Linked DNA regions of Homo sapiens. Changing the gene in region 6 together with the main gene of any one other region gives a genetic interaction. Each region holds a gene or a part of one and is shown on either strand. Other genes may lie near its edges.

Region 1 (4,566 bases), on a different chromosome or scaffold from region 6:
CCAAGTTCTAGAATTGCAAAAACTTCATTGTTGCCACTGAGAGAGCAACATATAGTACAGCTTCTTGTCTATTCACACCAGGACACCAAGGTACCTCATAGTGCAGTGTGTACACACAACCTGATTTTAATATTCTATCTGCTGCAGAAATACTTATCAGCTTTCAAATCAAAGTGAAAAGAAAATGAGTTAATTTAAATGGCAAATTCAAGGACATTTATACAAACATTATATTCTTAATTTTGGCAATAATTTTTAATATTTTGCCTTAAAGTCCTGGGAACAAAGGGCTCTTGCTATCCATTCATTTCATTAGGTGAACTGAAGATATGAGTGGGAGAAGTTATTCTGGATCACAGACACACATTAGCATGGAAATAATGATGTACGGAAGAGTCTTTTTCATTTACTAATTTTACTAATTTATTCTTTGACATACACCAATGTATGATATTGAAAAACAGAAAGCAGGTCATAAAGATGGTCCTGTCCGATAAAGGAAATCTTTTAAAACACTTTCAAAAGCTAAAATAACTAAAACTATTAAGCCTATTGATAGCTAAGAAAATAATTGTCTTCAATAATATTAGGTGGAACCATATGAAACTGCTGACAGTTTTTAAACTACAAATGCAGCAATTTCATATGTTTCAGCCTAATCCATGGGGTTGTACTGATCTTTCTGACCATTCTCGGCTGAAAATTGACATGGTCAAAGTCCTTGCCCTTCAGTATATGCATCGTATTAGCCCTTTCATGGAAGTATATCTACATAAATATATATGTATATATAGTGGGCCAATGTAAGCAAACACAAGGTATCACACCAAATCTATTCTTGAGAAAACCATTCCTATTTCAAACTTAATGTTTAAAAGAATCATATATTGATTTTGATTTACTCCAGGACTGTGGGGGATGGGGAGTGGCCATTTCTTTATATTTCTTCTAAGTTGTGATCTCTGTGTTGACTATAACCATACTAAATATGCTATATTCTTATTTGGCCTAAAATTTATTAGATTTTCCTTGATTGATCACGAATAAGTAAAATTGGCAAAGCTTCTTTCAGAGTCAAATCCTGCTTTCACAAACTGAAAGGAAATAATTTACTACATCTGAGATAGAGCCTTTTTCAAATCTGAGAAATCTGAACCAAATAGAATGCTTTATTTTCCAAAGAAAAAAATCAAGATGAAATACAAACAAGTGAACTAAAAGCCATATGAAATACCCTCTCTTTAGACAGACCCAATTTCTTCATATATTCAGTTAAACCCAAAAGCTAATCCATTAAGTTGTACTATTTTCTTCAGATAAATGTAATTCAGTGATAGCAGAGCTCTGCAAAATTTGAAAGCTCACCTCTCTGTGTAGTGGGGAATGGAAGAAATTAACTAGTATATAATCCAGAAATGACACAGGGCATTTAAAGTAAAATTAAAGGACACATTTACAAAATAGAAAACACTAATATAATTAACCAACAAAAATATACTGCAGTTCCGATGAAATGAGGTCAACATGACATGATCCTTTTGGAATGACTTTCTAATTTGAATTACAATGTGAGTGAAGTATTTTAGAAGACATTCTATCAAATAATGATAGACCTGCATAAGGAGGCTGTCACAGAAGATCTGTCTCTGGTGGACAGACAAACCAGATTAACATGAAATTGTAAAGGAAAAAGCTTTTTTATACTTATTATTATGGCTTTTTGCAACATGGCAAAACATTACAGCTTAAAGCAGACATCATCTCCTCTTAGAGGAGGAAAAAGTTTTGCAGTCAAATCAAATTATAATTAAGAGGTCATCGCTATACAATTCTATTCAGTTTAACAAAAACGATATTACACCTTCATGAAATCCAGAGATAATAGGTTACTTAAAAACATAAACAAAAAACTGGTGGATACACTGGCTGAATTAATAAAGGATATGATAAGGAATTTAGGTCCACCTATACCTATGATAATAAACATAAAAGACTGCAAAACAATTTAAGAACTTAATCACAGACCTACTAATCAAAGTTCATCATGTGCCTGATTACCAGAAAAGGAATTATTAAGGTATACAGTGAAGGGAATGGAGCAGAATAAAATATAAAATGTCTTTTTATTCCTCTCTGATTTCAACTTCCTTTTTATCTTTAGGGAGGATAGGGAGAAGATGTGCCTCGCTATTGAAGATCCAATGCTCCAGTGGAAGAAGATCGTCGTCAGAAAATATTAGGTACAAATATCTGGTGAGAGAAACATAAGTATATGAGGCCCAAGACACTAGGCAGGCAGTGAAACCACAAACACACAGCAAAAACCACATCAATGTCTGCATTCATCTTACCAAGAAACATGGACAAGAGTCAAATATATCAAAACCCTGAGGGGTTATACTCATTAACATGGGGTAAAGCAGCTACTCAGTGCTTTGGTGTTAGCAGTACCAAGTCACTGAACCTAGTTATTGAGAATATACCTGCAATTATAGCCATGCCTGATATTCTGAATCAGGCATACTTGATATTACTTGAATGTGTTCATGATAAAGACATCTACAAAGATCTGTTCAGGTACCTTAGCCACATGGTTTTAGAATAATTTTCACCTACTTCAATGTCTCTGCCAGGAAGAAACTCTGCTGCACATCATCATAACTCTCATGAAGAAGGTAAACATCCCTTAGGCCTGAATAGCCTCCATTCACTCTGCAATGGTTTTCCAAGGCCTAAATTATAGAGGAGGAAAAAAAAAAGTCACATTTCAGTAAACTGATTGTCACTAATTTTTATTATTAGATTGTCAAGTTCAGATAAAACATTTTTTTTTTTTGAGACAGGGCCTCACTCTGTTGCCTGGGCGGAGTACAGTGGCACCATCATGGGTCACTGCAGCTTCTACCTCTTGGGCTCAGGTGATTCTCCTGCCTCAGCCTCCCAAGTAGCTGGGACCACAGGCATTCGCCACCATGCCTGGCTAATTTTTTGTATTTTTTGTAGAGATAGGGTTTTGCCATGTTGCCCATGGTTGTCTCAAACTCCTGGGCTCAAGCGATCTGCTTGCCTCGGCCTCCCAAAGAGTTGGGATTACAGCCATGAGCCACTGTGCCCAGTCAAAATTTATTTTTTACAAATTGGATTCAAATTAAATGAAAGTTTGTTATAGAGTTTTAGGTAAAAAAAAATTAAAACCATAAACTAAATGTAAATTAAAAATGAAGTCATAGAACATATGGACCACATATCTTACCTAATTTGAAACACTTCTGCCTTTAGTTTTGGAAAAATTTTTCACTGATTTTTACCAATTCCCCCTATGGTCTGGAGCAGGGTTTAGCAAAGTATGAACTATAGGCTAAATCCAGTCCACTGTTTATTTTTGTAAATAAACTTTTATTAAACCACAGCCATGTTGTTTAAATATTGTCTGTGGCTGTTTTTGTACTACAATGACAGAGCTAAGTAGATGCAAAAGAGACTAGCTGGCTGTCCCCCAAGCCTGATATTGTCTGGCCCTTAACAGAAAGAGTTTGCTGACCCCTAGTTTGGAGAGACTGCTAATGTCAACTGGGATCATAAACCACTGGTTGAGAAACCGTACTGGAACAAAATCAGCTGCTTCTATAATCAGAGTATCTGAGTTTCTGAAAATTGATTGTAGGGTACTCATCAGTGATATTGGTAACAGAGCTAAAAGAAGAAAATGAAAGACAGTGAGAGACATGTGGCTGGGATCTATTCCTAAAATACATGTTTTTTTTTTTTTTCAGTCTAGTATGGAAGAAGATGGGATGACTCCACTGACAACTCTCTAGAGAGAAATGATCCTACATTTCTGTAGTTGTCTGAATTTAATGAATATTTGGAAAACAGATGGGTTGGGCAGTGTGAGGATGAACATTTAGGTAACAACCTAAACCAACCTGCCTTCCACTTTGTTGGTTACCACTAAGATGGCTGCTGTTTGTGTTTTCTTTTTCCCTTTCAGAGCCCACTTTCTTTCTTTTGTTTGTTTCTATTTTTCTTTAACCTTTTTCCAGCTTTACCGATGTATGACAAATACAAATAGTATATACTGGAAGGTGTACAGTGTGATGTTTTGATATACACTACTTCTGTGGATATACACCATCTTCTGTGGTGGATATACATCATCTTCTGATGTGGATACACATCATCTTCTGTGGATATACACCAAGAATTAGGATTGCTGGATCATATGGTAGCTCTATTTTTAATTTTTTGAGAAACCTCCATACTGTTTTCCATAATGGCTATATCAATTTTCATTGCCACCAACAGTGTACAAAGGTTCCCTTTATTCTGCATCCTCACTAAGACTGATTACCTCTTGAATTTTTGATAATAGCCATTTAAAAAGGTATGAGGTGATATCTCACTGTGGTTCTAATCTGCATTTCCCTGATGATTTGTGATGTTGAGCATCTTTTCACTACTGGCCATCTGTACGTCTTCTTTGGAAAAATGTCTCTTCAGGTCCTTTGCCTATTTTGAAATCAGGTTGTTTTTCTGCTACTGAATTGTAAGTTCCTTATATATTTT
Region 2 (4,566 bases), on a different chromosome or scaffold from region 6:
CTGCAGGCCCCCAGGTCCAGAGTCATGTCACTGACTAGACATAGCTCATCGTGCAGACAATCTCCCTGTACCCCTTCCACTCTACAAGGCCACCTAATTATCATCATCATAACAGTGAGGATGATAATGATGATGACAATAATAGCTTTTAAACACTTAGACTGCATGCCAGGTACCACACAGAGTGCTTTACATATAATTATTTAATTCTGTTGACAAATCCTACTTAAGTATTTTAACACCATTTTGCAGATGAAGGAACAAAAGAGGAAGTACTTAAGAAATTTATCCTAGGTCATGTAGCTAGTAAGTGGTGGGGCCAGAATATCAATGCAGGACTGATTCCAAGGCCCATGTTCCTAACTGCCACATTCTCGGGCTCACTTCTTCAGACTATGCAGTCTTCTCTTCCAACACTATTTCTTCTTTTTTGGAGACGGAGTCTTACTCTGTCGCTCTGGCTGGAGTGCAGTGGCGCAATCTCGGCTCACCACAACCTCCACCTCCCGGGTTCAAGGGATTCTTAGCTTCCTGAGTAGCTGGGATTACAGGCGCCCGCCACCACACCCGACTAATTTTTGTATTTTTCGTAGAGATGGGGTTTTGCCATGTTGGCCAGGCTGGTCTTGAACTCCTGACCTCAGGTGATCTGCCTGCCTCAGCCTCCCAAAGTGCTAGGATTACAGGTGTGAGGCACCGTGCCTGGCCCCAACACTATTTCTATTAATGAGTCAGCCACTGCATATATAAGCAGATATTCCCAGCCCTGCTGCCACCTGCTGCCCCAAATCCCACACCATACCTGAAAGGAAGCATATTTGTAGACAGAGCCACCAGTGAGCTGGGGCACAACAGAGAGTGTGGCCACATCCACATACTGGTTAGGGAAGAGAAAGAGATCTACACAGCAGCCTTGGGCCACACACTCTTTGGCCAGGGTCTGATAGGCACCTGTCTGAGGCTGGAACAGAGTCTAGGGGGAAAGAAAATGGGGAGAAGAAAATGTTCAAATATCTCAGCTCCGCCCTATTTGAAAACTGTATATCTAGCATGGGATATTCAAATTCATGGAAGACTTCAGATCTACTTCCAAGGATTTTCCAATAGTAAAAAATTTTCTTTTATATTATTTTTATTTTTTTGAGACAGGGTCTCACTCTGTCACCCAGGCTGGCATAGAGTGGCATGATCTCAGCTCACTGCAACCTCTGCCTCCCAGGTTCAAGCGATTCTCCTGCCTCAGACTCCCAAGTAGCTGGGATTACAGGTGTGTGCCACCACACCTGGCTAATTTTTGTATTTTTAGTAGAGACGGGGTTTTGCCATGTTAGTCAGGCTGGTCTCAAACTTCTGGCCTCAAAAATCTGCCCGCCTTGGCCTCCCAAAGCGCTCGGATTACAGGCATGAGCCATCATGCCCGGCCAAAAGTTCTTCTTTAAAAAATAAATAAATACAAGAGTCTACCAACAGCTTTGGCATCAGATGGAGTAGAGAAGTATGGCAGCAGTGGAGGTTGGCAGTCACAGATATGGTATTTGAAAGGGTGGAGTGTCTGGTCCTAGCCACCATCAAGAAAGTAGAGTCCCCACTTCCTCTGTAATGAAAAATCCTTCCCCTCCCCCATTTTCCAGTCCCACACCTTCTCCTTGTCTGTATTGATCAGCTTCCTGTCATCTCTGTTCTTCAGTTTCCCTGGGGCCTCTGCAATGGGCAGGGATGTATGGAATAGAAAGAGCTTCCCTGCACACTCAGCAGCCTAGGAAAAAAGAGAGGACTACTTGTTTATTCTTTATTCATCCATCTCTTCCCTTGTCATTTATTAAGCACCAGCTATGTCAGACAGTCTAACACACTGGACAGTCACCCACTACTGAAGAAAGAGAGGTTGTATCCCAGGGGATAAGATGGTCAGAGGAAAATGGAGTTAGAGGAGGTTGCCCGATACTCCAGCCTTACCTTCAGAGCCTCCATTCCAGCCTGGATAACTGGTACAAATACTGTCTCTGTTTCCCTTGTGTCTGCAAACATTTCTGGAATCTGATCCAATAAGCTAAAGAGATAGGTGACGGAAAACAACCAAAATTGCTATACAGATTCCAGATACCTCAGTTCTCGATTCCCTGAAGAGTCATCAAGCCTCTAGAATCTGACAACTCCTGGGCCACAACCCCTTTCCATCTACTGTCCAATACCTCTGTTCAACTCCATGACCTTCTATGGTGGTACCCATGCCACCCCCAACCTTTACCTCCACAATCTGGCTCTTACCTGGTGATAACTGCCCGAGACTCATTGACGTTGACCAGGAAGCCATCCAGCAGTGGCACAAACATGTCAGCCACATCAGACACAACCATCATCTGTGGCTGGGCCAATGAGCTCTTCACATTATAGAAGTGGAGCACCTTATTGTAGGTGACAAAGCCAACGCGGATTGCTGACTCTTCTGCCCCACCCTCCCTGTAGAAGGTGACATTGTTACCTAGACTTGCCACCTTTTCCACCACCCACAACTTCATGACACCAAGCTACATTTCTTCAGTCAACCCAGACACCCTATCATTAACCTCAGGAAACACCTCAGTTCTGTAACTCTCACCTAGGTAGAAAGTCTAACAGTGACTTGAGCTCCTCACAGAGGAGCCTAACAAGACCAGTCCTGATGGCATTGTAGGAGACGTCAATCATGAAGATAAAGGCAGGAGGGCTGGGGAACTTATTGTTCTGCAGAGGAAGAAAATGTTGGGGAGAGGGGGAATGGTAAGCAGGCCAGTTGACTATAGAGAAGTCAGCATCAAAAAGGGACAAAAAAGGGGTGAGGGAAATGATAACAGCCATTCTCAGCTGTCTCATTATCCTCCACTCACTGCTCCTCCCATGCTACCTTCCCTCACCTTGCAGTAATCTACAGTGGCCAAGAATTCATAAGAGCCCAGGGATAGCTCAGGGCGGTCATAAGCATCCACACGTTTGCCGGTATGATCCAGGTGCTGAAAATACTGGGGGGGAACTGTGGGAAGCATGGCAGTGTGTTACTCGAAGATCCAGTTTCAATCTTAGTATTCTGGCCCTAGCTGAGCTCACACCACTATCCCTCATTCCCATGTGCCCTACTTCCCCAGCTCCTGAAAGATGGACCCTCATCTCTCTAACTATTTAATAGAGAACAAGGAAGATACAATCAAGACCTTCCCCCAAATCCCAGCTTCCATGAACATACCATCATTGATACAGCTGCAAAAACAGCACTGGAAACGCCTCCCTCCTTCAATGAACTGCATGAAGGGACACATGTATGCTTTGCAGCGGTTGCAGCGCAAAGGGCCAGATTCCCCATGGTCCACAACATACGGTGAAGCCTAAGGCGCAAAGGGGAAGGGATCAGACATAAAGGAAAACCACAGTAGGTTCAGCCAGGAGATGAGGAAGAACAACCGGAGGAAGAAGGCGCATGGCGCAGATATTCTGTCTGCAGAGGGAGTAGGGAGCACAATGATGAAAGGGAGTAAAGACAAATCACAGGAAAATGTCCCTATGAGTAAAAATTATATAGTTCCCTCTTCCTACATCCCACCCCCAGAGCTGCATTTCTCACTGAAAGAGAAGAGGAAATGCAAAACCGGCCATATCAGACTAGGGGCTGCCATGGGCATATGAGGGAGAAAGCCAAGATTATCTAGGATTCTCCTTTCTGGCCCCATCTCTAATGCCCTTCACTCTTGCTCTAAGAATCTTGATTCCAGCTCCTTCCCTAACCAAATATCTGTAACACCTCCTCCCGTATCCCTGGGATTCTGTGCCAGTTACTGATGCCCCAGGCAAATGTCACCCTACACATAAGAGACCAGTGCCCAACTATCCCCAATGGGACCCAGATAGAAATAGACAAACACACAGAGAAAGACGGAGAGATAAGCAGAATATAAACTGAGCCTTTGGCTTCTAGTAACAGAGAACCCTATCGTAAGATAAGCAAGGCTGAATATGAGTATCCTACCAAGGCCTGGTGGAGCAGCTGCCTGGCTCGCTCTCTTCATGCTGGTATCAGGTACTGGGGTGACAGATCAGGTCCCAAAACAGGTGACAGAAGGATCACTGGATCCTAATCTACCTTTTCTCTTATATGCTGTTCTAACAGCACTAACCTGGGATGACAGGACAGTCAGGAAAACATGGAATGATGTCCTTCTCATCATCTGGAGATGACCATGATACGAGAGGTTCCTACATTCAGCTGTCTTCTCCCCTACAATTTGGCCCTACCTCTTGTTTTTTTTTTTTTTTTTGAGACAGAGTCTCGCTCTGTTGCCCAGGCTGGAGTGCAGTGGTGCAATCTCGCCTCACTGCAAGCTCTGCCTCCCGGGTTCACGCCATTCTCCTGCCTCAGTCTCCCAAGTAGCTGGGACTACAGGCGCCCGCCACCACGCCCGGCTAATTTTTTGTATTTTTCATAGAGACGGGGTTTCACCGTGTTAGCCAGGATGGTCTTGATCTCCTGTCCTCGTGATCCACCCGCCTCAGCCTCCCAAAGTGCTGGGATTACAGGCGTGAGCCACTGCGCCTGGC
Region 3 (4,566 bases), on a different chromosome or scaffold from region 6:
AATGCGAGATTACTATTGTATGTTTCCTTTTTATTATACTTGTTTTACTTTGGAAAATTTTACTGTGTTTAAGACATAATAAGACCATATTTGGAATCTGCTCATTAATAAATTATAATTGTTGGCATATAAACTGTTCAAATTTACCTAGCAATATAAAGATTTCAGGTACAGTGTATACTTGCCCTAGTAAGCAGTACTTTCAAACTCTTCAATAAACAAAACAAAACTTTGCATCATTTATTTATACATAAACCATAAACCAAGTACATACCATTCTTAATTGAAATAAGTCCAAATTCCTCTACTTACCAATTCTGCTTGATATTTGAAAGTTAAAATGTTTCTTCTAAAATGTTCTAAAATTCACATTTTTAAAATTTTGGACTTACTGAAACTTAGTAAGGTTTTACTGTGAATACTTTCAAAACTGTAAACAGAAAAACATATATAGCTATATAATAACTTTTAAATAACAAGTCTATTTTTAAATTACTAATTTAAAGGTTTTTTTTCTCCCTTTTGCTAGCCAGTCTCAGTTGGAGGGCTGATAGTAAACCTTATTGGTATCTGTGCCTTTAGCCATGCCCATAGCCATGCCCATGGAGCTTCTCAAGGAAGCTGTCACTCATCTGATCACAGCCATTCACACCATATGCATGGACACAGTGACCATGGGCATGGTCACAGCCACGGATCTGCGGGTGGAGGCATGAATGCTAACATGAGGGGTGAGTCCTTGCAAAATATTATCCTACTTTTCAACTGTGTTCTAAATCAACCCTCTGTGTTTATTTGTATTAAGTTTTGGGCTTCTGGTATGATATGATTTTTAAAAAGCAATCTGTGACTAAAAGAAAGGTCTGAAGCTATCACTATAGAAAATATTCTTACCTGAATACACATAAAATTAAATATTATTCAGCCTTTAAAAAGAGGGACATTCTGGCTGGGAGCATGGTGGTTCACGCCTGTTAATCCCAGCAATTTGGGAGGCTGAGGCGGGAGTACCACCTGAGGACAGGAGTTCAAGACCAGCCTGGCCAATATGGTGAAACCCTGTGCCTACTAAAAATACAAAAATTAGCCGGACATGGTGGCAGGTGCTTGTAATCCCAGCTACTCAGGAGGCCGAGGCAGAAGAATCGCTTACAGGTGTGAGCCACCATGCCTGGCCGTCACAGAAAATTTTTTAAAAAGAAAATGAGGCTGGGAACAGTGGCTCACATCTGTAATCCTAGCACTTTGGGAGGCCAAGGTGGGTGGATCACCTGAGGTCAGGAGTTCGAGACCAGTCTCTCCAACATGGTGAAACCCTGTCTCTACTAAAAATACATAACTTAGCCAGGTGTGGTGGCAGGCGCCTGTAGTCTCAGCTACTCAGGAGGCTGAGACACGAGAATCACTTGAACCTGGGAGATGGAGGTTGCAGTGAGCCAAGATTACGCCACTTTACTCCAGCCTGGGCAACAGAGTGAGACTCTATCCAAAACAAAAAGAAAATGAAAATATATTTGTTCTTAAATGTTAGTTTTTAAATGATTATAATTATATAGTCCTTTTCATAGTGACAGCTGAATAGATATTAGTTGCAAGGTAAACACAGTGTGCTATTATGAACCTTCATTACAAAAAGGAAATTCTTACTCCTTTTTTAGAAATTTTTATTGCACTATAAAAAAAATGGAGGAAGTACTAATCATTTATTTTGCTGAATTGTTTATTCTGATTGCTTAATATAAGTAATGTGGGTAATGTCAAAACTTGCCTCAAGTATGATTTTTGGGAAGCCTTTCCAGACAAAGTACACCATAAAATTTGGCACGCTGTGTCATGAGTGCCTATGTCCTTATATTTTTACCACTGTATTCTGAATTCCTTGAGGGCAGTGACCATGTTTTAGGCATTTTGAAGTACTAGCCAGTAGCAGAGTATGTGGTGCACAGTAGGTATCCAGTAATATTAGTAGAATGTATTAAAAAACTAAATTAGATGTGCCTTAATTTTTAATGTCCTTATATATTTTATTTGTAGGTGTATTTCTACATGTTTTGGCAGATACACTTGGCAGCATTGGTGTGATCGTATCCACAGTTCTTATAGAGCAGTTTGGATGGTTCATCGCTGACCCACTCTGTTCTCTTTTTATTGCTATATTAATATTTCTCAGTGTTGTTCCACTGATTAAAGATGCCTGCCAGGTTCTACTCCTGAGATTGCCACCAGAATATGAAAAAGAACTACATATTGCTTTAGAAAAGGTACTGTATGTAATTTCTTCACTACTTTCTTCCTTGAAAATCACATTTTTGAAGTCTTTGCTGGAAGTAAAACAGACAACCAAATAAATAATAAAACAAAACGAGGCCAAAAAAGAAATATAAAGTAGCATTTAAAATTTAATAAGTTGACCTAACAAGAAATATGCAAGATATAAATGAGAAAAATACAGTTTTACTTAAAGGATATAAAACAGGGACCGAATAGATGGATGAGATTTTCTTGGATGAGAAGACTCTTTATTATAATGATGTTGATTTTATTTTATTTAGATTTCAATTTAGTTGCCTTCATTGGATATTTTTGTTTATGGTTTGGGATGTTCTAAAATTATTTGGAACTTACTTGGAAGAGTTAGCGCTTGAGAATAAGAAAACATACATAAACTTACAGAATTAATTAATAGGATCCTACTTTGCAATTATAAAGTAGCAGAATTAAGTGACAAAACTAACAGTTTAGATCGAGACCATCCTGGCTAACAAGGTGAAACCCCGTCTCTACTAAAAATACAAAAAATTAGCCGGGCGTGGTGGCGGGCACCTGTAGTCCCAGCTACTCGGGAGGCTGAGGCAGGAGAATGGCGTGAACCCGGGAGGCAGAGCTTGCAGTGAGCCGAGACCACGCCACTACACTTCAGCCTGGGTGACAGAGCGAGACTCCACCTCAAAAAAAAAAAAAAAAAACCTAACAGTTTGGTCCTTGCACAAGAATAAAGACATAAATCAACTTTTAAAAAAATAATAAGTTCCCATTCTTGTGACCTGGGATTGTTTCCTGGACAGCACAAAAAAAAAAATAGTAACAATAATAATAGGTTGTCTGTAAAAGAAGAAATAATAAAAAATGAAAATAAATGAAGAATTATGGTATGTAATGTAAAAGAAGAAATAAAAATAGGTTGTCCAGAAACAGACCCAGGAGTTTATGGAATTCAGTATATAGCAAAGATGGTATTTTAGATCACTGGGGAGAAATAGTTGACCTAAATAACCAGCTTTTGGTTAATTACTTCTTTACTTTGTGGGGAAAAAAAAGCTATATCTCTATACCATATTATATAAAAATACATTTCCAGTGGATTAAATATGTAAATGACAAAAAAATTATGAAACTACTAAATAGAGAAATATTTTTGTTTGTTTGTTTTTTGAGACAGTCTTGCTCTGTTGCCAGGCTGGAGTGGAGGGGCGCAATCCCAGCTCACTGCAACCTCCACCTCCCGGGTTCAAGCGATTCTCCTGCCTCAGCCTCCCAAGTTGCTGGGATTACAGGCCTACCACACCCAGCTAATTTTTGTATTTTAGTAGAGATGGGGTTTCGCCATGTTGGCCAGGCTGGTCTTGAACTCCTGACCTCAAGCTATCCACCCACCTTGGCCTCCCAAAGTGCTGGGATTACAGGTGTGAGCCACTGCACCCCGCCAGAAAAATATGTTTATAATCACAAAGATAGGGAAAGACTTTTTAATATACTTGAAACCAGAGGCCAAAAAGGGAGGATAAAATTTACAAATTTGACCAGTTGAAAATTGCCAGTTGGTGGAAGATTTCATTAACAAGTATAAAACATAAAAGGCAGACCAGGAAAAAACATTTGCAGCACATATAAACAGGCAAAGGTTTACTGTCCATAATTCTTTAAGTCAAGAAAAAGACAATCTTAGCTGTGCATGGTGGCTCATGCCTGTAATCCAGCACTTTGGGAGGCTGAGGTGAGCAGATCACCTGAGGCCAGGAGTTCAAGGTCAGCCTGGCCAACATGGTGAAAGTCCATCTCTACTAAAAATACAAAAATTAGGGTCGGGCACGGTGGCTCACGCCTGTAATCCCAGCACTTTGGGAGGCTGAGGCAGGCAGATCACGAGGTCAGGTGATTGAGACCATCCTGGCTAACATGATGAAACCCCATCTCTACTAAAAATATAAAAAATTAGCCGGGCATGGTGGCGGGCACCTGTAATCCAAGCTACTCAGGAGGCTGAGTCAGTAGAATCGCTTGAACCCAGGAGGTGGAGGTTGCAGTGAGCTGAGATCACGCCATGGCAACAGAGCGAGACTGGCAACAGAGCGAGACTCTGTCCTTCCCCACACACAAAAAAAAAAATTAGGCCTGGCACGGTGGCTCAGGCCTGTAATCCCAGCACTTTGGGAGGCCAAGGCTGGCGGATCACAAGGTCAGGAGATTGAGACCATCCTGGCTAACATGGTGAAACCCCGTCTCTACTAAAAAAAAATACAAAAAATTAGCCAGGCACCGTGGTGGGCACCTGTAGTCCCAGCTCCT
Region 4 (4,566 bases), on a different chromosome or scaffold from region 6:
AGAAATTAAAAATATAAAAATATGAAAAAAGAAAAACATTGGCAAATGTCATATTGTAATAGAACTGCATCGCTTTCCTTTCTATGCAGAATCCAGCAGTAAACAAAAGGGTTGCAAGATTAGCATTTATTTAAGAATTTATAGTACCTTAAAGCTTATTTGCCTAGCCAGTTCTTTGGCTTCTTGGTCAGCTTGGCTTGAATCGCTTCCAGATTTTAAAGGCAACAGGACATCCTTCATGGCAGAGCCACATCCTTCACAACAGAAATCTTGTGATCTAGTAGAAAAAGATTTTTTAAATGAAAATAAATAGTTAAATGTTTAATTCCCTCTCACTGAGACACTCAAATGCTCGATCATTAAACTTAAAAGAAAGGAACACTGGAAAATTCCACATCACATTTATCCACATGCTATGAATTAGAAAATTAATGTAATGATTATAGTCCTGAGACAAGTAAATGTTAGGCTGGCTTTAAAAAAATCCAGGGCTCAGATGCTATTTTTTCCAATAAACTATCTAAAGAAAAATAAGTTTTACATCTATACAATGAGAAAATTGTCTATTATACTGTCCTTGAGATCACATATAACAAACCTATTTTAAGGCTGTGAAAAAAGTCCTTTAACAAGATCAAATTATCTGTTAGCAGAAATATATATAAAGCAGTAAAGAAACTAATTAAACATAGAATTTACAGATATTTCTAGGGAAAAAAAAACCCCTCACAAATAGCAGTATAACTTGAAAGACTTGGGAGAACTTGCAGAAAATCCAAAGACTTAATTTATTGCTGATTATACATTAGGTAGAGACTCAGGATATGTCTGTTAACTAGATTATTTTCTAAAATATATTTGTTTTTCCATTTTTCCCTTTGTATTCCAGATATAGTCAAAACTTCCTTGAAGTTTACAAGAGTCCTCTGAGGATATGAATGACTGAAAGTAAACATGCATCATATATAAAACATATATTGTTACACTGTTAAACTTCCTTCTAAAAAATTGTTTTTCATAGTACTTCTAGTTCTATTAAAAAACCTTAGGTCTTGAAGAACATGCTATTTAAAATTATGAAATATCATATAAACAAAATATATGTAAAAGTAGCAATAATTTAGTTTTTCTGTTTGTTTGTTTGTTTGTTTGAGACAGGGTCTCCTCGTTCTATCACCCAGGCTGGAATGCAGTGGTGCAATCATGGCTTGCTGCAGCCTCAACCTCCCAGACCCCAGTGATCTTCCCACTTCAGCCTCCCAAGTAGCTAGGACCACAGGTGTGTGCCACCACACCCCGCTAATTTTTATTTTATTTTATTTTTTTTTTTTATTTCATTTTATTATTATTTTTTTTTTTGTAGAGACAGTGTCTCCCTGTGTTATCCAGATTGGTCCAGAACTCCTAGGCTCAAGCGATCCTCCTGCCTCAGCTTCCCAAAGTCCTGGGATTACAAGCATGAGCCACTGTGCCCAGCCTAATTTAGTATTTATTGATGAGTATTTCTTGTTTTACCAGAAGTGGCACTGTTGACCACACACCTTTGAGAATTGGTTATATACAAATTATTTGCTTCAAAATGTATTCACTTTTAACTGAGTCAGATGAACCTTAAGGGGAGTGTTTATTTTGAATGTATTAGTTTATCCACAATGGTAGCATGCTACCACGGTTGAATGCAAAAATCTTTGTTTTTTTTTTTTGAGACAAGGTCTCAACTCTGTCCCACAGGCTTGAGTGCAGTGGCACAATCATGGCTCACTGCAGTCTCAACCTCCCCAGGTCAAGCAATCCTTCCACCTCAGTCTCTAAGTAGCTGAGACTACAGGCACGTGCCACCACGCCCAGCTAATTTTTGTATTTTTTTGTAGAGCTGCAGTTTCGCCATTTTACCCAGGCTGGTCTCGAACTCCTGAACTCAAGCAATCCACCTGTCTTGGCCTGCCAAAGAGCTGGGATTACAAGTGTGAGCCACCATGCCCGGCCCAAAATCATTTTTTAAAAGGTTTCTATTATAGACTGAGAATCTAGAATATACAGTGAGAAGCCTAGAAGAACAAGAACTCCAGTTCTTTTTTTTTTTTTTTTACCTCGCACATGAAATCAACTGGATAAAGGCATCAAGATAAAAAAACCAACGTAGTAAATCGAATGAAAACAAATACTATGTATTCAAAGTACATAGTGTAATCTATGAAGAGCTGTATAAATAAAGTACATACCCATAGTTTGGAAATAAGGTTTAAAAAGAAAAGTTGCTTATAAGACCAAGAAGTCTACCAAATCTTCCAGATGCTAAAATCTAACTGATTTAGCAAATATCTGTAGAGGGCCTACTCTGGGGTGTGCTAGGGTAAAATATGATATAATTTAATTAACATAATATGTCTGAAGGGTGGTAGGCAGCAGACTCCAGAGCAGAAAAATTATCAACATCAAAAATTAGGTATCAGCACTACTCAAAGAGGGGCTACTCTGAATGGAAGGACTGATCTTGGTCATATAGACAAAAGTGCACCTGCACCTGAAAAAAACAGAGAAGGCATCACTTCTCTGTTTGTGATTGCCACTGGGCAATCACAACTTGATAAAATCTCTTTTGCTTTATTCCAGATCATTTATTAAGCACTTGCTATGAGCTAGATGCAAAGATGGATAAAGTGGATTACCTCTTGGCCCTCAAGAGGTTTGTAATCTTGTGGAAAGCTACAAATAATTGCTCTGGTTCTTTTCCATCTATAATGCCATAGTGGAAACAAATGACTGGTATTGTTTTCCAGGAGAATATATCTCCCACTGAATTTTTTAAAAATAGTGAAATAGTATCAACTACTTTTTAAGACTAGATAGCATTAAATAAATTACTTAGATTCTGGTCACTCCAAGGAAATTATTACAACTGAATTCCTAAAAGAGCAAAACTGAGATAAGATCCTGTAGCTACAGTCACTCAGAAAATAAGTCACATAGTAAGAGGTAGGCCCTACCTCCTAATAGCCATTACCCTGAATACTATTCAGACCTCAAGAAGAATGAAATGCAAAACTTACTTTTTGGCAAGTGCTCTTCTTTCCTCAGGAGTGTAATCTAGAGAACCTATGGCTCCCTCTCCTTTTGTTGGCATAAACCCAATGATGGCTAATAATGCTGTCCTTACTGAAATAAAAAAGTAAATATCAATCTAAATTGCTTTGTAAAAGCAACTGGGTTTATTCTGGAAAAAGAAAAAATCAGAGTATTATACTTCATAACTATGAATTGACTGAAGTTATGAGATTTATATTCACTATAAATTAACACTTACTACTCCACGAAGGCTGCCAAGTTTCAGGATGATGGCCTGAGATGCTCAAACAGATTTTCTTGCCCACTTCAAATCGACCATTAGCCTGAGGAATAAACAATGCATTTAGAAAATTAAATACATGTGCTTAATGTTTATACTTTCTGTAAAAATATACTATTTATATATAATAATTTTAGAGATTATCTTAAAAAGTTTGTTTTTTTTTTTTTTTTTTTTTTTTTTGAGATGGAGTCTCGCTCTGTCACCCAGGCTGGAGTGCAGTGGTGTGATATCAGCTCACTGCAAGATCCACCTCCCGGGTTCACGCCATTCTCCTGCCTCAGCCTCCCAAGTAGCTGGAACTACAGGCGCCTGCCACCAGGCCTGGCTAATGTTTTGTATTTTTAGTAGAGACGGGGTTTCACCGTGTTAGCCAGGATGGTCTCGATATCCTGACCTTGTGATCTGCCCACCTTGGCCTCCCAAAGTGCTGGGATTACAGGCATGAGCCACCGCGCCCGGCCAAAAAGATTTTTTTTTAAATGTAACCTCTCATGGGACACAGATTTTTTGTCCTTATAGACTCCAAAAATACTTGTTGGATGCTGAATAATAAAAGCTGTTTTTAGAAGGTGTTTTACAGCACCTTTTGAAACTGAGTTGCACAAGTGAAATCTAAATAATTAACATGTAAAGTTTTACTGGCCAGCGAAGTGGCTCACGCCTGTAATCCTAGCACTCTGGGAGACTGAGGCAGGAGGATCACTTGAGGCCAGGAGTTCAAGGCCAGCTTGAGCAACTTAGTGAGACACTGTCACCAAAAAAAGAAAAGAAAGAAAATTAGCCAGGAGTGGTGGCATGTGCCTCTAGTCCTACCTACTTGGGAGGCTAAGACAGGAAGATTACTTGAGCCCAGGAGTTCAAGGCCACAGTGAACTATGACTGCATTGCTGCATGCCAGCCTGGGTGACAGTGTGAGACCCTGTCCCCAAGAAAAGAAAAAAAAAGAGGAGAGGAGGGGAGGAGAGGGGGGGAGGGGGGAGGAGAGGGGATGGGGGAGGAGAGAGGGGAGGGGAGGGGGGAAGGGAGGGAAGTGGGGAGGGGAGGGGGGAAGGGATGGGGAGGGAAGAGGGGTGGGGAGGGGAAGGGGGAAGGAGAGGGGGGAAGGAGAGGGGAGGGGGAAGGGGAGGAGGGAAGGAGTGGGGGAGGGGAGGGGAGGGGAGAGGATTTACTAATGTCCTACCCTGTGCCTAGTATGGAGCTAGGCTCAGTTAAGAATC
Region 5 (4,566 bases), on a different chromosome or scaffold from region 6:
ATGTAGTAGGCAGCCAGGCTGTGGATGCTGTCAAGGGGCGCAGCTGCAATGGCAGTGCCGGGCACTCAGCATGTGCAGGCGGCAGCCACGGGCCCCGTGATGGCCAGCACTGACCACCGCTTCCAGAGGAGGGCCCGGGAGTACCTCGGGTGCACTGCAGGCCATAGGTGGGGATGCTGAGCCGGGAGGCCAGGCTGTGGAACACGGTGGTGGAGCCCTCGATTGGGTGCACCAGGAACAGGGGCCGCTCCGAGCTCTGCACGGAGTTGAGCCGCATCAGGGTGGGGCCCTCCGGGTTCACCAGCAGGGAGCGCAGGTTCAGCTGAGTCTGCTGCTGGGCCAGACCATCCTCCTTGGGCGTGGGGCATGCCAGCTCTGTGAAGACAGGGGCAGATGCCAGGCTGGTCTGGGTGCAGAGCCCTGGCACCCACGCAAGGACACACAGACACGCACGCAGGTCCCCACGGTGCTACGTCAGGTGGGAGTCGGGGTGGGAACGCTCAGAATGGCACCCGTGACGAAGGGCGGTATGCCTGCCGGGACACGGTCCAGACAACAAGGAGGAAGGGCTGGGGAGGCCCGGGGACCCCACTCCCGCCTGGCCACCCACACGCACCGCTGGCCTCATCCGCCTTTGAGGACAGCTCCTGCAGTTTCCGGAGCGTGAGTTGCCGCACCTCGCGCACGGACAGCACCAGGTTGAGCTCACGCTCCAGCGTCTGGCGCACCTCCACGCTCATGAGCGAGTCCAGGCCCAGGTCCGCCAGTGAGCTGTCCAGGTTGACAGCAGCCAAGTCGCGGATGCCTGGAAGGGATGCGCCGGGTCGGCAACTCCAGAGGGGGCATGGGGACGGCCTGTATGCGGCAGGGCTGACACCCAGGGGTGCGTGGGCTGTGCATCTCCCAAAGCACCACCACCACAGTGACACCTGCGCCCGCACCCTGGCTCTGCAGATGGGGAAACTGAGGCGCACAGGGGCACGACTGCTATGTCCCAAGACCCTGATGCCAGCAGGGGAAACACCTGGCGCGGCTCCTACTGGGAGTGCTCACCCAGGATGTGTGCCACGGCCTCCACCAGGTCCCGCTGGCTGTCCCTGTCCCTATAGGCCGCAGCCTTCTCAGCCAGCACAAAGCTGCTCAGGACCATGTGGGGCTGGTTCAGGAAGAGGTCCAGCACCTCCAGGCAGGACGCCATGCGCTGGGGCAGCGTGCCACTGACGATCGTGTCGTTGGTGCTCATCGTCTCCACCAAAATGCCCACGTCGCCGATGGCGCCCCACTGCACGGCCAGGCCTGTGGGGGAGGGGGCAGGTGGGCAGAGCTGCGGGGAGGTCGGGGTGGGGAGTGGCCACTGGGAGAGGGTGGGGTGGGCAGGGCTGCGGGGAGAAGGTGGGGGTGGGGAGTGGCCACTGGGAGAGGGCAGGGTGGGCAGGGTCGAGGGGAGAGGGTGGGGCCCACCTGGGAGGCCTTCGTGCCGGCGTTTCTCACAGATACGCTCCATGGCGGAATTGGCAAAGCCGTAGTTGCTCTGTCCCGCATTGCCACGCCCGCAGCTCACAGAGGAGAAGACCACAAAGTAGTCCAGCTCAGGGCACGCCTCTCGGGTCACCCTGTGGGCACGCGTGTCACTCCCCATTGGCCAGCATCCCCAGGAGCCCCCAACGTCCCATCCCCAGGAAACGCCAGAGAGGGCTGTCAACAAACCACCTTGGCTCCCACGGCCCTGAGCCCAGAGCCCGGCAGAGGCGGGAGCAGGGCTGTGCGGTACCCACCTGTCCAGGTTCAGGGTGCCGCTGTACTTGGGCTTGCAGACGTCCTGGAAGAACTCTGGGGTCTGGTTCTCCAGCAAGCCATCTCTCAAGACCTGGGGGAGGCATCCTCAGCACTCCCTGCAGCTCCAGGGCCTCACCCGTCCACCCAGGGTCCCCCCCTTGGTCTTGGGGCTTTTGAGGGCCCCATTTGGGGCCTTCCCTCACCACGGCCAGGTTGAAGACGCCGCCCACGGGCCCAAGCTGCGCCGCCTCGGCAATGAGGCCCCGGGCCCCCTCCAGTGAGCTGATGTTGCTGGTGGACACCTGCACCTGTACGCCCTGGCGCCTCCACCGGCGGACCTGCTTGGCCTGGTAGCCTGCGGGACACAGGACTGTGGGCTGGACTGGGCCAGGGTACGGTCTCTTCCCTACACGCCGGGCTGGGGAAGTGGGGAGCAGCCGCAGAGCCCCATCCAGCAAGCCCCCCACAAGATGGAGGGGGACAGACCCCAGGCACCGTGACAGCCCACAATGGTGGGCTGCAGAGAAGGGCTCAGGGGCCCGGGGCTGTGCCTGGCCCAGGCTGGTCCACAAGCACCCCTGCCGACTCACCTGTCCGGATCCCGGAGCGAGAAGTCAACACGAGCTTCTGCACCCCACGCTGTATCAGCCACTGCGCCAACTCCAGGCCGAAGCCACCCAGACCACCAGCGATGATGTAGCTCTTGTGGGCCGGGCAGAAGGTCTTGGAGATGGCCGACATCAGCTTGGGTTTGGCCCCCTTCAGCACTGCCTCCGGCTCCTCCGCAAGCACCTGCGTCCAAGCAGCACCCACCGGCTCAGGCACTGCCTGGGGACCAGAGCCTGGGGTGCCCGAGGCGCCGGGACTCCTCCCCTCACCTGCACGACGACTTTGCCAATGTGCTTCCCTTGGGCCATGTAGCGGAAGGCGTCCTCCACCTGGGCCCCATGGAACACCGTGCACTTGAGGGGCCGTACCACCCCATCCCGGATGCCGGCCTGCACAAGCGCCCACACCTCCCGCCAGTCAGCACTGCTCTCGTTGAAGAACGCATCCAGTAGGACCCCGTGGAATGTCACGTTCTTCAGGAAGATAGCCATGCCTGCGGGCAGGGGCCGTGCTCACCCAGGGCCTTCCACAGGTCCACCCACACCCATCCATGCCCACCCCCGCCCAGGCGCTGCCGGCCTCACCGAGCGGGTGGTTCTGAGAAAGGTCGAATTTGCCAATTTCCAGGAAGCGACCGTGCGTAGCCAAGCACCTCACGCTGGCCTGCAGCTTCTCTTCCGCCAAGGAGTTCAAGACCAGGTCAACGCCTAGGGGGCCAGAGGGGCCAGACAATCACACCCACTGCAAGCCCAGCCACCACAGTCCAGAGGGCCAGACCCTGCTTCTCCCTGGGCCGGAGGCTAGGCAGGAGGCAGGTGGGGGCTGTGGGGGCCACTCACCCTTCCCGCCCGTGTGCCACAGCACATGCTGCTCGAAGGATGTGTCCCGGGAGTTGGCGAAGCTGGTGCTGTCGAGCTGGGGGAACCTGGCCTGGAGGTACGCCCGCTTCTCAGCCGACCCTGGTGAAGAGAGGAAGCGCGGCTGGTGAGCCAGGGCGGCGGGGCCAGGAGGGCAGCGGGAGGCACCGGGGGCGGGGCCTTACCCACGGTGGTGAAGACGCGGCAGCCCAGACTGAGGGCGATGGCGATGGCGGCCTGGCCCACGCCGCCCGAGCCCGAGTGGATGAGCAGCGTCTCCCCGGGGCGCACCCGCCCACGCACCACCAGCGCGTAGTAGGCCGTGCTGTAGACGACAGGCACCGAGGCCGCCTCCTCCAGCGTCCTGGGGATGCAGCAGGTGGGTCAGCACAGGCCTGGCCGCCATCCACGTGGGGCCCAGGCTCACACCCTCGACACACTCACCAGTTGGAAGGCACATCCCAGAGGAAGTCCGGTGACAGCAGGACAGAGGTGGCCAGGCCCTTGGCAGGCACCAGTCCCATCACACGCTTGCCGCTGGCGTCTCGGCCCGAGAACTCCATACCTAGCAGGCTGTCCTGGGAGGTCCACTTCCCTGGGGGAGACGGCACTGAGCCCCTCACCGCCTGCCCTTCCCTCCCGAGGGGCTCCCAGGCAGGTCCTAGCTGCTGGGGTCTCTGCTCCCCGGCCCAGTCCACTCCCACGGCCCCATGCCACCCATACCTGGGATGGCATCAGGGGACAGCTTGCCAGTGGCCAGCATGATGTCGCGGAAGTTGAGGGAGGCGTAGTAGACCGTGCAGAGCTGGGCGCCAGGGCAGGTGGGCTGGGCATGGCGCAGCGAGGAGCAGACCCAGCGGATGGAGGACAGGTCCCCCCGGGTGAGGGTGCTCACAAAGGCATGTGCCGTCGGCTCCTCAGGCTTGTCTAGGGAAACAGGGAGGTGGGGCTGCTGCGGGGCCTTCGGGTGCAGTCTCCCGGGAGGGGCAGGGCAGTGTCGGGGGCTCACCCTCCTCCAGCAGGAAGTGGCGGAAAGCCCCCCAGGCCCCGTCGCGGTAGACGTTCATCACCAGGTCTCCCTGCAACACCTTCTGCAGTTCTGCGGAGCCCGGGTCCACCTCCGGGACGTGGGAGGTGCTGCTGAGGTTGGAGAGCAGCACACACCTGGGGGCAGAGGCGGGGAGCTCAGGCTGGGGATGGGGAGGCTGGTGGGGAAGGGGAAGTGGTGAGGGGCCGTGCTCCTACCGGAGGCGGTTCCCGCCGGGCTCTCGGCGGAGACAGTTCACCAAGCCCACCACGCCCGAGGTGGCACAGTTGATGGCCT
Region 6 (4,566 bases):
TTGCACTACTACGTTACAAGGGCTACAATAAACATTGCCAGACAATAGGAATTTTTTAGCTCCCATTATAATCCTATAAGACCACCATTATATATGTGATCCGTTGTTGACCAAAACATCAATATGCAGTAAATGACTGTATATCCAATTAATGGCACTCTAATAACTTTACCAAAGGAACTCAGTTGTCGTATTTTAGATAATTCATGTGAATTATGAGGTTAGTTATTTGAATGTGTGGGTTCCCTTACTGTTTATGAAGCCACTATTGCTCCCAGTTATGTGATTTTAAAACCCCATTTGCCAATCCCCACTAACCAAAAGAATCAAACTACTGTACAGTTGTCCCTTGGTATCTGTGGGGAAATGATTCCAGGATCCACCCCACCCCACCCCCACCCCCACCCATCGGGATACCAAAACCCATACATGTTCAAGTCCTTGATAGAAAATGGCATAGCATTTGCTTATTACCCATGCACATCCTCCCATACACTTTAAACCATCTCTAAATTACTTACAATACCTACTATAATGTAAATGCTAACAGCTGCTATACTGTACTGTTTAGGGAATTATAAGAAAAAAAGGTCTGTACATATTCAATACAGACGCAATTTTTTTCTGAGGTTTTTTTGAGATCACTGCTATTTATAGATATAGAAACTGAGGCACAGAGATGTTAAGTAACTTGCCCAATACCACACAGCTAGCAAATGGCAGAACCTGGAGGCCAACCCAAGCAGTGTGGCTGCAGAGGCTGAGCTCATAACCATTGTTACATTGCAAGTACACTACTTGCATCTATAGGGGATTCATAAAATCTTTCTTATCTCAACAAAAGTGAGGTGGCTTAATAAAAATAAATGTGTGCGGGTGCCACATTAAGTGCATATATGTGATGTTTCTCTCTCTCTTTTTTTTTTAAGACACAGTCTCACTCCGTCACCCAGGCTGGAGTGCAATGGCGTGATCTCGGCTCCCTGCAACCTCTGCCTCGTGGGTTCAAGTGATTCTCCTGCCTCAGCCTCCTGCGTAGCTGGGACTACTGGCATGTGCCACCACACTCAGCTAATTTTTGTATTTTTTTTTTTTTAGTAGAGATGGGGTTTCACCATGTTGGCCAGGATGGTCTTGAACTCCTGACCTCACATGATCCGCCTGCCTCAGCCTCCCAAAGTGCTGGGATTATAGGCATGCGCCATCACCCCCAGCCTTTTCTGAGTATTTTTAATCTTTGGTTGGTTGAATCCACAGACATGGAACTCATGAATACTGAGGGCTGATTGTATATATTTGAATACCAGTAATTCTTACTACTGCAATTCTATGTTCCAGCCACAGCAACCTTTTAAAGGTGTTCCTCAAACAGGCCAAGCTCATCACTGCACCTCAAGACCTTTGCCTTAGAATGCAGATCATTCAGGTCTCAGCTCCAATGCCACCTCAGGCCTCCCAAACCAACCTAAGAAAAATGCCCTTCCTCCATTCCTCTCTGCACATCCAGAGACAAAGTCTTGAGATGGTACAAGAGACACTCTGATTGGCTATGAGACTGAAATTTTAATTTGGAATAACCAGACTTTTAAGAAAAGCCCAGGAAAGCTATAGGATCTGGCTGAAATGTCAACATGAGGAAGAAAAAGAACATTCAACAAAAAATAGTCAAAAGCAGTTTTTTGGGGAAAAATTATTTTCTGTTGTAAATAAGTGAGTAAAATAGTGGCTCCACCTTCCGAACACTTTTTTTTTTTGAGACAGGGTCTCACTCTGTCGTCCAGGCTAGAGTGCAGCAGCATAAACATTGCTCACTGCAGCCTTGATCTGTGCTCAAGCAATCCTCCTGCCTCAGCCTCCCATGTAGCTGAGATTACAGGCATGCACTAACATGCCTGGATAATTATTAAATTTTTTGTAGAGATGAGGTCTTACTATGTTGCCCAGACTGGTCTTGAACTCCTGGGCTCAAGCGATCTTCCCACCTGGGCTTCTCAAAGTGCTGCAATTACAGGCGTGAGCCTCCGCATCCGGCCTTGAACATTCTTATCACGTTGTTTTCGCTACCGCCCTAATTACCAGTAAAAACTATGCAAGTGTATTCTTTATGTCTTTAGTGTCAGTATTCATCCATCAGGATATAAGCCCCAAAGTCTAAGAACTTTGTCATATTCACTATTGTATCACTGATACTTTTTTTTTTTTTTTTTTTTTGAGACAGGGTCTTGCTTTGTCGCCCAGTCTGGAGTGCAGTGGTGCGATCTCAATTCACTGCAGCCTCAACCTCCTGGGCTCAAGCAAGCCTCCCAACTCAGCTTCCTGAGTAGCTAGAACTAAAACCGTACACCACCACCCCCAGGTATTTATTTTTTATTTTTTGTAGAGACGAGTTTCACCATGCTGTTCAGGGTGGGCTAAAATTCCTGGGCTCAGGTAATCCACCCACCTCAATCTCCCAAAGTGCTTGGATTACAGGTGTGAGCCACTGTGCCCAGCCTGAAATTTAAAATGGTATCCAGTACAGCATAAATGCTCAGATTTTTATGGAATGAACAAACCACAGCTACACAGATCAATTACCTTTGATATTATTTGTATGTACTCCATGGATTTGACCAATGTTTTCTAATTTTTATTTTTGTAGAGGTGGTAGGTCTTGCTATGCTGCCCAATCTAGTCTCCAACTCCTGGCCTCAAATGATCCTCCTGCCTCTGCTTTCCAAAGTGTTGGGCATGAGCCACTGCATCCAGCCTCTGACCAAAGTTTTAACCTGAGCTGTATCCTGCTTTTTGTTTGTTTTTTTTTGTTTGTTTTTGTACAAATGGGGTTGCCCAGGCTGGTATCAAACTCCTGGCCTCAAGCAATACTCTCACCTTGGCCTCCCAAATCACTGGGATTACAGGTGTGAGTTACTGCACCCAGCCCTGCTTTCCTTACAGAGCATATGAGGCATCTATTTCCTCCACCTACTAACCAAGGCAGGAGGCAAATGGCTCTTACTGACAACTGGGTTCACCAGGACACTAAGCAAAATATTTATTAAGAGAAACCTCAAGTAGGGGTGGTAGCTCACGCCAGTAATCCCAGCACTTTGGAAGGACAGGGCAGATTGCTTGAGCCCAGGAATTCCAGACTAGCCTGGACAACATGGCAAAACCCTGTCTCTAAACATTTTTTTAAATGAGCTGGGAATGCTGGTGTTGCACCTGTGGGAGGATGAGGTGGGAGGATTACCTGAGCCTGAGGAGGTCAAGGCTGTAGGGAGCTGTGACTGCGCCACTGTACTCCAGACTGGGGGACAGAGTGAGACCCTGTCTCAACAGAAAAGAAAAGAGAAGAGAAGAGAAGACGAGAAGAGAAGAGAAGAGAAAAGAAAAACCTCTCTGGCTGACTAGCTCTTTTGCTCATTCCTGTAATCCCAGCACTTTGGGAGGCCTACGCAGGAAGATCACTGGAGCTCAGGAGTGGAGACCAGTCTGGGCAATATGGTGAGATCCCATCTCTATAAAAAATTAGCCAGACCTAGGGTGGTATGTGCCTGTAGTCTCAGCCACTCAGGAGGCTAAAGTGGGAGGATCGCTTGATCCTGGGAGATCAAGACTGCAGTGAGCCATGATCATGCCACTGCACTGCAGCTTGTGTGAGAGTGAGACCTCCTCTCAAAACAAACAAAAACAAAAACAAAACCTCTCTTTTTACTAGAAAGATGCCTAGTATCCTCTTTCTACCTTCCAGCAGTCTAAAATTCCCCTCCTCTAATCTACTGAAAAATGACTGATCAAAATTTACCCTGAGCTGCCACTTCCTTTTAGAAGTTTTAATTAACATACATCACCTCCAGATTATGGTAATTGTTCAATCATTTATTTTCATAGAACATGAAAGATTCTACCATTTACATGTATCACAAAGTTTTACAGTTACTGATTAGTCCACTATTCCCTCTCCCATTCCTACCCATGACCAACACAGACACCCTTGAAATTTGTTTCCTCCCTAGGCTGTGTCGAATGCAACCATCTCTCTAGGACAGTACACTGAAGGAGGGGAAGGCCGCTCTAAGGCCCATGTCCCTCTTAGATATACGTTTCAAGAGGGCAATTTCTATCAACCCAATGAAAAATTGACAAGTTCTTAATAAGGTTCTCATTTATGTTTAACTAGACATATTAAAAAGAATTCTCTGGTTATGCACCTTAACCACATTCACCGATGATATTCAAATCTTCGTATCACATCCATATTCCTTGCCAAGCATGATCCTGACTCTGTGCTTTCACACTGGCTGTTCCCTCTACAAGGAACTCTTCTAAATATGTACATGACTTGCTCCCTTGCTTCATTCTGGTTTTACCTCAACTATTATCTCCTCAGAGGCATTCCCTCACTATCTTATCAAAAATAAGCCAGCTGTGATGGCTCATGCCTGTAATCCCAGCACTTTGGGAGGCTGAGGTGGGAGGATCACTTAAGGTCAGGAGTTCAACACTAGCCTGGCCAACATGGTGAAACCCCATCTCTACTAAAAATGCAAAAATCAGCCGAGCATGGTGGTGGTCACCGGTAAT
Region 7 (3,363 bases), on a different chromosome or scaffold from region 6:
TCTGATTGGCTTCCTATTCTGATTTTTTTTTTCCTTTCCCCGCCCTCGTTAGTTTGTCCAACCGGTGGGACATAATCTGCCCCATTCCCCCGGATGAGCCCCGGGGAGAGTAAGAGGAGTGCGGCGTCACGAGGAATCAGAGGAGAGGAGGGTGGGTCCCTTCAAGCCTAGTCTCGTTTGCTGGAATGTGGGAAAGGGAATAGAAATGAGCGCTGACGTGCCTAGATTTGCCCAGGCCACGACAGTACCTGTGAGCATCTGCCCAGGTCTAGGCGACCTTCAGCCTCTGACCCTTGGGATAATATGGACCAAGGAAATCCTTGGCCAATTCAGTGTTTTGAAAATTTAAAAGTAAACCCTATAGCAATCCACTAGGGGGCATGGAACTCTCAAGATTACTCCTAGGATTTTTTTTTGCTGCCAAAGCCCCAACACAAATCTCCGAGAAACTGGATTTGCTGTAAATTAAATTGCCCTTTAAATCGACTATGAACAGTAGCTGAAATCAAAAATTTTAATCATACAGGCCTATATTTTACAGTGTGCACATTTCACATAACATAACCACCAGCCAGGATTTATCTAGGCCAGGGTCCAAATACTTTCTGTAGAAGGCCAGAATGGAAACAGTTCCAGTTTGGGGGGACCATACAACTTGTCTCAAATAGTCAACTCTGCAGCTGTTGCATACAAAAGCTAAAGGAATGGCGGTGGCTGTGTCCCAATAAAAAGATACAGACATTGAAATTTTAATTTCATACAATTTTTTGTGTCCAAAAATAGCATTCTTTAAATATTTTTTCCAACCATTTAAATATGTAAAAACCTTTCTTTGCTCACAGGCCATACAAACACAGGCAGCAGGCCCGATTTGACCCACAAGGCATAGTTTACCATCTCTAGTGTACACTAACATAAACTGCTCTACTTTTCCAAAGAAGTACGCTTTAGGACAGAGGAGGATGAACGAGTATGTCGGGGAGTGGGGGGGCGCGGAGCTTCATGATACCCTCAATCAGTCACCACAAGCTAGACAGTTTACAAAGGTCTGCTTTATCACTGAATTGATAAAATACACATTATTTTTTATTTATTTATTTATTTTTTTGAGACGGAGTCTCGCTCTGTCGCCCAGGCTGGAGTGCAATGGTGCGATCTCCGCTCACTGCAAACTCCGCCTCCTGGGTTCACGCTATTCTCCTGCCTCAGCCTCCCCAGTCGCTGGGACTACAGGCGCCTGCCACCACGCCCAGCTAATTTTTTGTATTTTTAGTAGAGACGGGGTTTCACCGTGTTAGCCAGGATGGTCTCGATCTCCTGACCTTGTGATCCGCCCGCCTCGGCCTCCCAAAGTGCTGGGATTACAGGCGTGAGCCACCGTACCCGGCCATCATTAATTTTTATTAAGGTTACTGTATTGCTTACCATATACAATTGCTACTTAAATTCTCTAATCTTTCTGCCTGAATTCTTTAAATAAAGTTAACACTGCTTGGTATAACCCCAGCACAACACAGGATAATGCTCCCAGTACTCCCAGTGACACAAACCTGCTAGAGAAAGGAAAACGATTATCCATGATAGTATGAGGCAGGAATAAAATTAGGCCATCTTGCCATAGCAGGCGGTCTTCTTTTGGTTCTATGACACAGAAGGTGGCTTGATCACAGCACAATTTCTTTATCCCAACTTCCTAGCAATCAAAGAGTTTTTCTCTTGGTGGAGCACAGGGGCTCACACTTGGAATCCCAGCACGTTGGGAGGCTGAGGTAGGAGAATTTCCTGAGCCCAGGAGTTTGAGACCAGCCTGGGCAACATGATGAGACCTTAACTCTACAAAAATTTTGAAAACTAGCTGAGCACGGTGGTGCAACCCTGTGGTCCCAAGCTACTTGGGAGGCTGAGATGGGAGGATCACTTAAGCCCAGGAGGTCAAGGCTGCAGTGACCTATGTTCATACCACTGCACTCCAGCCTGGGCGACAGAGTGAGACCAACTCAAAAAACAAACAAACAAACAAACAAACAAACTTTCTCTCTCGAGTCCAGTGATTCTCCCTCAACGCTCAAGACTCCAGCATGAACTGTTAGGCATTGGGTTTTTCTGTGTTTACAGCAGACCATGGTAAAAAGAAGTCCCAAGTCACAGCCAGAACGCCAAAGTAAGATCTGTTGAGTGCTAGGCTCATGGACTGAGCCTAATCTTATTTTCCACTCTGCCTCAAACAAAACAACTCATTTGCCCATACAACCCATGGCATCCTTTCACAGTAACAAGGACAACAGGACACCTCCAGTACTTTTTATTTTTTTTGAGATGGGAGTCACCCAGGCTGGAGTGCAGTGGCGCGATCTCGGCTCACTGCAACCTCCGCTTCCCCGATTCAAGCGATTCTCCTGCTTCAGCCTCCTGAGTAGCTGGGATTAAAGGTGCGTCCCACCGTGCCTGGCTAATTTTTGTATTTTTAGTAGAGACGGAGCTCTGCCATGTTGGTCAGGCTGGCCTTGAACTCCTGACCTCATGACCCGCCCGCCTTGGCCTCCCAAAGCGCTAGGATTACAGACGTGAGCCACCGCGCCCGGCAATATCTCCAATACTTTAATACTTGGTTGAAAAGAACCCATTGCACTGTTTCCCACTGTTTGTCCCAGTACTTTAGTTTTATGATCTCATTTGGGTTTTTGTAAAAGCAGTCTTCCTACAAGCCTAGTAAAGGAAATTCTTTCTTTCTCATTTTGCCAAATGTAGCATTTAATTGATTTTTTTTTTTTTTTTTTTTTTGAGCTAGAGAGAGTCTTGCTCTGTCACCCAGGCAGGAGTACAGTGGCATGATCTCGGCTCACTTCAATCTCCACCTCCTAGTTCAAGCGATTCTCCGCCTCAGCCTCCAGAGTAGCTGGGAGCTACTCCATGTACCACAATGCCCAGCTAATTTTTTTGTATTTTAGTAGTGATGGGGTTTCACCCTGTTCCCCAGGCTGGTCTCAAACTCCTGAGCTCAGACAATCCACCCACCTCAGCCTCCCAAAGTGCTAGGATTACAGCGTGAGCCACCACACCTGGCCAATTCTAATTCTGTGTAAAATGAGTGAAACACAGCTAAACTAGAACTAGTCCTTGCTAGCATGTTAATATAGATTTTGCTCAAACATCTGCCATCCCCATCCTGTTGCAGAGATGACCAACAACCCTGGGTCCACAGCATGTTCCAAATCTCTCAAGTAGTACTAAATCTATTACTTCTAGTACCCCAGCCTTTTTCCCCCTCCTGGTGGCAAAATTCAAGTATCTCACACGCACCCTAAATGTCTCTTCCTCTATGCAGGGAACTTTTGGTTGCCTCCCCAAATAAACGGCATTGTT

The links.
Region 1: changes in CUL5 (region 6) and MAN1A1 together harm fitness less than expected from each alone (positive genetic interaction), as found in Homo sapiens cells (one large-scale study listed by BioGRID).
Region 2: changes in CUL5 (region 6) and SEC24C together harm fitness more than expected from each alone (negative genetic interaction), as found in Homo sapiens cells (one large-scale study listed by BioGRID).
Region 3: changes in CUL5 (region 6) and SLC30A5 together harm fitness more than expected from each alone (negative genetic interaction), as found in Homo sapiens cells (one large-scale study listed by BioGRID).
Region 4: changes in CUL5 (region 6) and UBE2J1 together harm fitness less than expected from each alone (positive genetic interaction), as found in Homo sapiens cells (one large-scale study listed by BioGRID).
Region 5: changes in CUL5 (region 6) and FASN together harm fitness more than expected from each alone (negative genetic interaction), as found in Homo sapiens cells (one large-scale study listed by BioGRID).
Region 7: changes in CUL5 (region 6) and SAR1A together harm fitness less than expected from each alone (positive genetic interaction), as found in Homo sapiens cells (one large-scale study listed by BioGRID).

What each region holds. Positions count from the first base shown.
Region 1 is NC_000006.12:119,177,696-119,182,261, forward strand, and holds part of MAN1A1 (mannosyl-oligosaccharide 1,2-alpha-mannosidase IA), read right to left. Parts: intron 2,733-4,566; coding exon 2,617-2,732; intron 2,251-2,616; coding exon 2,124-2,250; 3' UTR 1-2,123. UniProt on the Homo sapiens protein: Involved in the maturation of Asn-linked oligosaccharides. Progressively trim alpha-1,2-linked mannose residues from Man(9)GlcNAc(2) to produce Man(5)GlcNAc(2).
Region 2 is NC_000010.11:73,764,244-73,768,809, reverse strand, and holds part of SEC24C (protein transport protein Sec24C), read right to left. Parts: intron 3,360-4,566; coding exon 3,221-3,359; intron 3,011-3,220; coding exon 2,895-3,010; intron 2,725-2,894; coding exon 2,600-2,724; intron 2,461-2,599; coding exon 2,269-2,460; intron 2,051-2,268; coding exon 1,957-2,050; intron 1,757-1,956; coding exon 1,640-1,756; intron 974-1,639; coding exon 803-973; intron 1-802. UniProt on the Homo sapiens protein: Component of the coat protein complex II (COPII) which promotes the formation of transport vesicles from the endoplasmic reticulum (ER).
Region 3 is NC_000005.10:69,121,165-69,125,730, forward strand, and holds part of SLC30A5 (proton-coupled zinc antiporter SLC30A5), read left to right. Parts: intron 1-529; coding exon 530-731; intron 732-2,034; coding exon 2,035-2,261; intron 2,262-4,566. UniProt on the Homo sapiens protein: Together with SLC30A6 forms a functional proton-coupled zinc ion antiporter mediating zinc entry into the lumen of organelles along the secretory pathway.
Region 4 is NC_000006.12:89,335,155-89,339,720, forward strand, and holds part of UBE2J1 (ubiquitin-conjugating enzyme E2 J1), read right to left. Parts: intron 3,390-4,566; coding exon 3,305-3,389; intron 3,157-3,304; coding exon 3,051-3,156; intron 278-3,050; coding exon 148-277; intron 1-147. UniProt on the Homo sapiens protein: Catalyzes the covalent attachment of ubiquitin to other proteins. Functions in the selective degradation of misfolded membrane proteins from the endoplasmic reticulum (ERAD) and is essential for cells to recover from ER stress.
Region 5 is NC_000017.11:82,080,548-82,085,113, forward strand, and holds part of FASN (fatty acid synthase), read right to left. Parts: coding exon 4,488-4,566; intron 4,407-4,487; coding exon 4,252-4,406; intron 4,170-4,251; coding exon 3,966-4,169; intron 3,838-3,965; coding exon 3,687-3,837; intron 3,607-3,686; coding exon 3,428-3,606; intron 3,345-3,427; coding exon 3,225-3,344; intron 3,093-3,224; coding exon 2,970-3,092; intron 2,879-2,969; coding exon 2,655-2,878; intron 2,569-2,654; coding exon 2,367-2,568; intron 2,132-2,366; coding exon 1,980-2,131; intron 1,868-1,979; coding exon 1,776-1,867; intron 1,614-1,775; coding exon 1,462-1,613; intron 1,297-1,461; coding exon 1,054-1,296; intron 806-1,053; coding exon 617-805; intron 376-616; coding exon 145-375; intron 44-144; coding exon 1-43. UniProt on the Homo sapiens protein: Fatty acid synthetase is a multifunctional enzyme that catalyzes the de novo biosynthesis of long-chain saturated fatty acids starting from acetyl-CoA and malonyl-CoA in the presence of NADPH.
Region 6 is NC_000011.10:108,015,035-108,019,600, reverse strand, and holds part of CUL5 (cullin-5), read right to left. Parts: intron 1-4,566. UniProt on the Homo sapiens protein: Core component of multiple cullin-5-RING E3 ubiquitin-protein ligase complexes (ECS complexes, also named CRL5 complexes), which mediate the ubiquitination and subsequent proteasomal degradation of target proteins.
Region 7 is NC_000010.11:70,146,789-70,150,151, forward strand, and holds the end of SAR1A (small COPII coat GTPase SAR1A), read right to left. Parts: 3' UTR 501-3,363; downstream 1-500. UniProt on the Homo sapiens protein: Small GTPase that cycles between an active GTP-bound and an inactive GDP-bound state and mainly functions in vesicle-mediated endoplasmic reticulum (ER) to Golgi transport.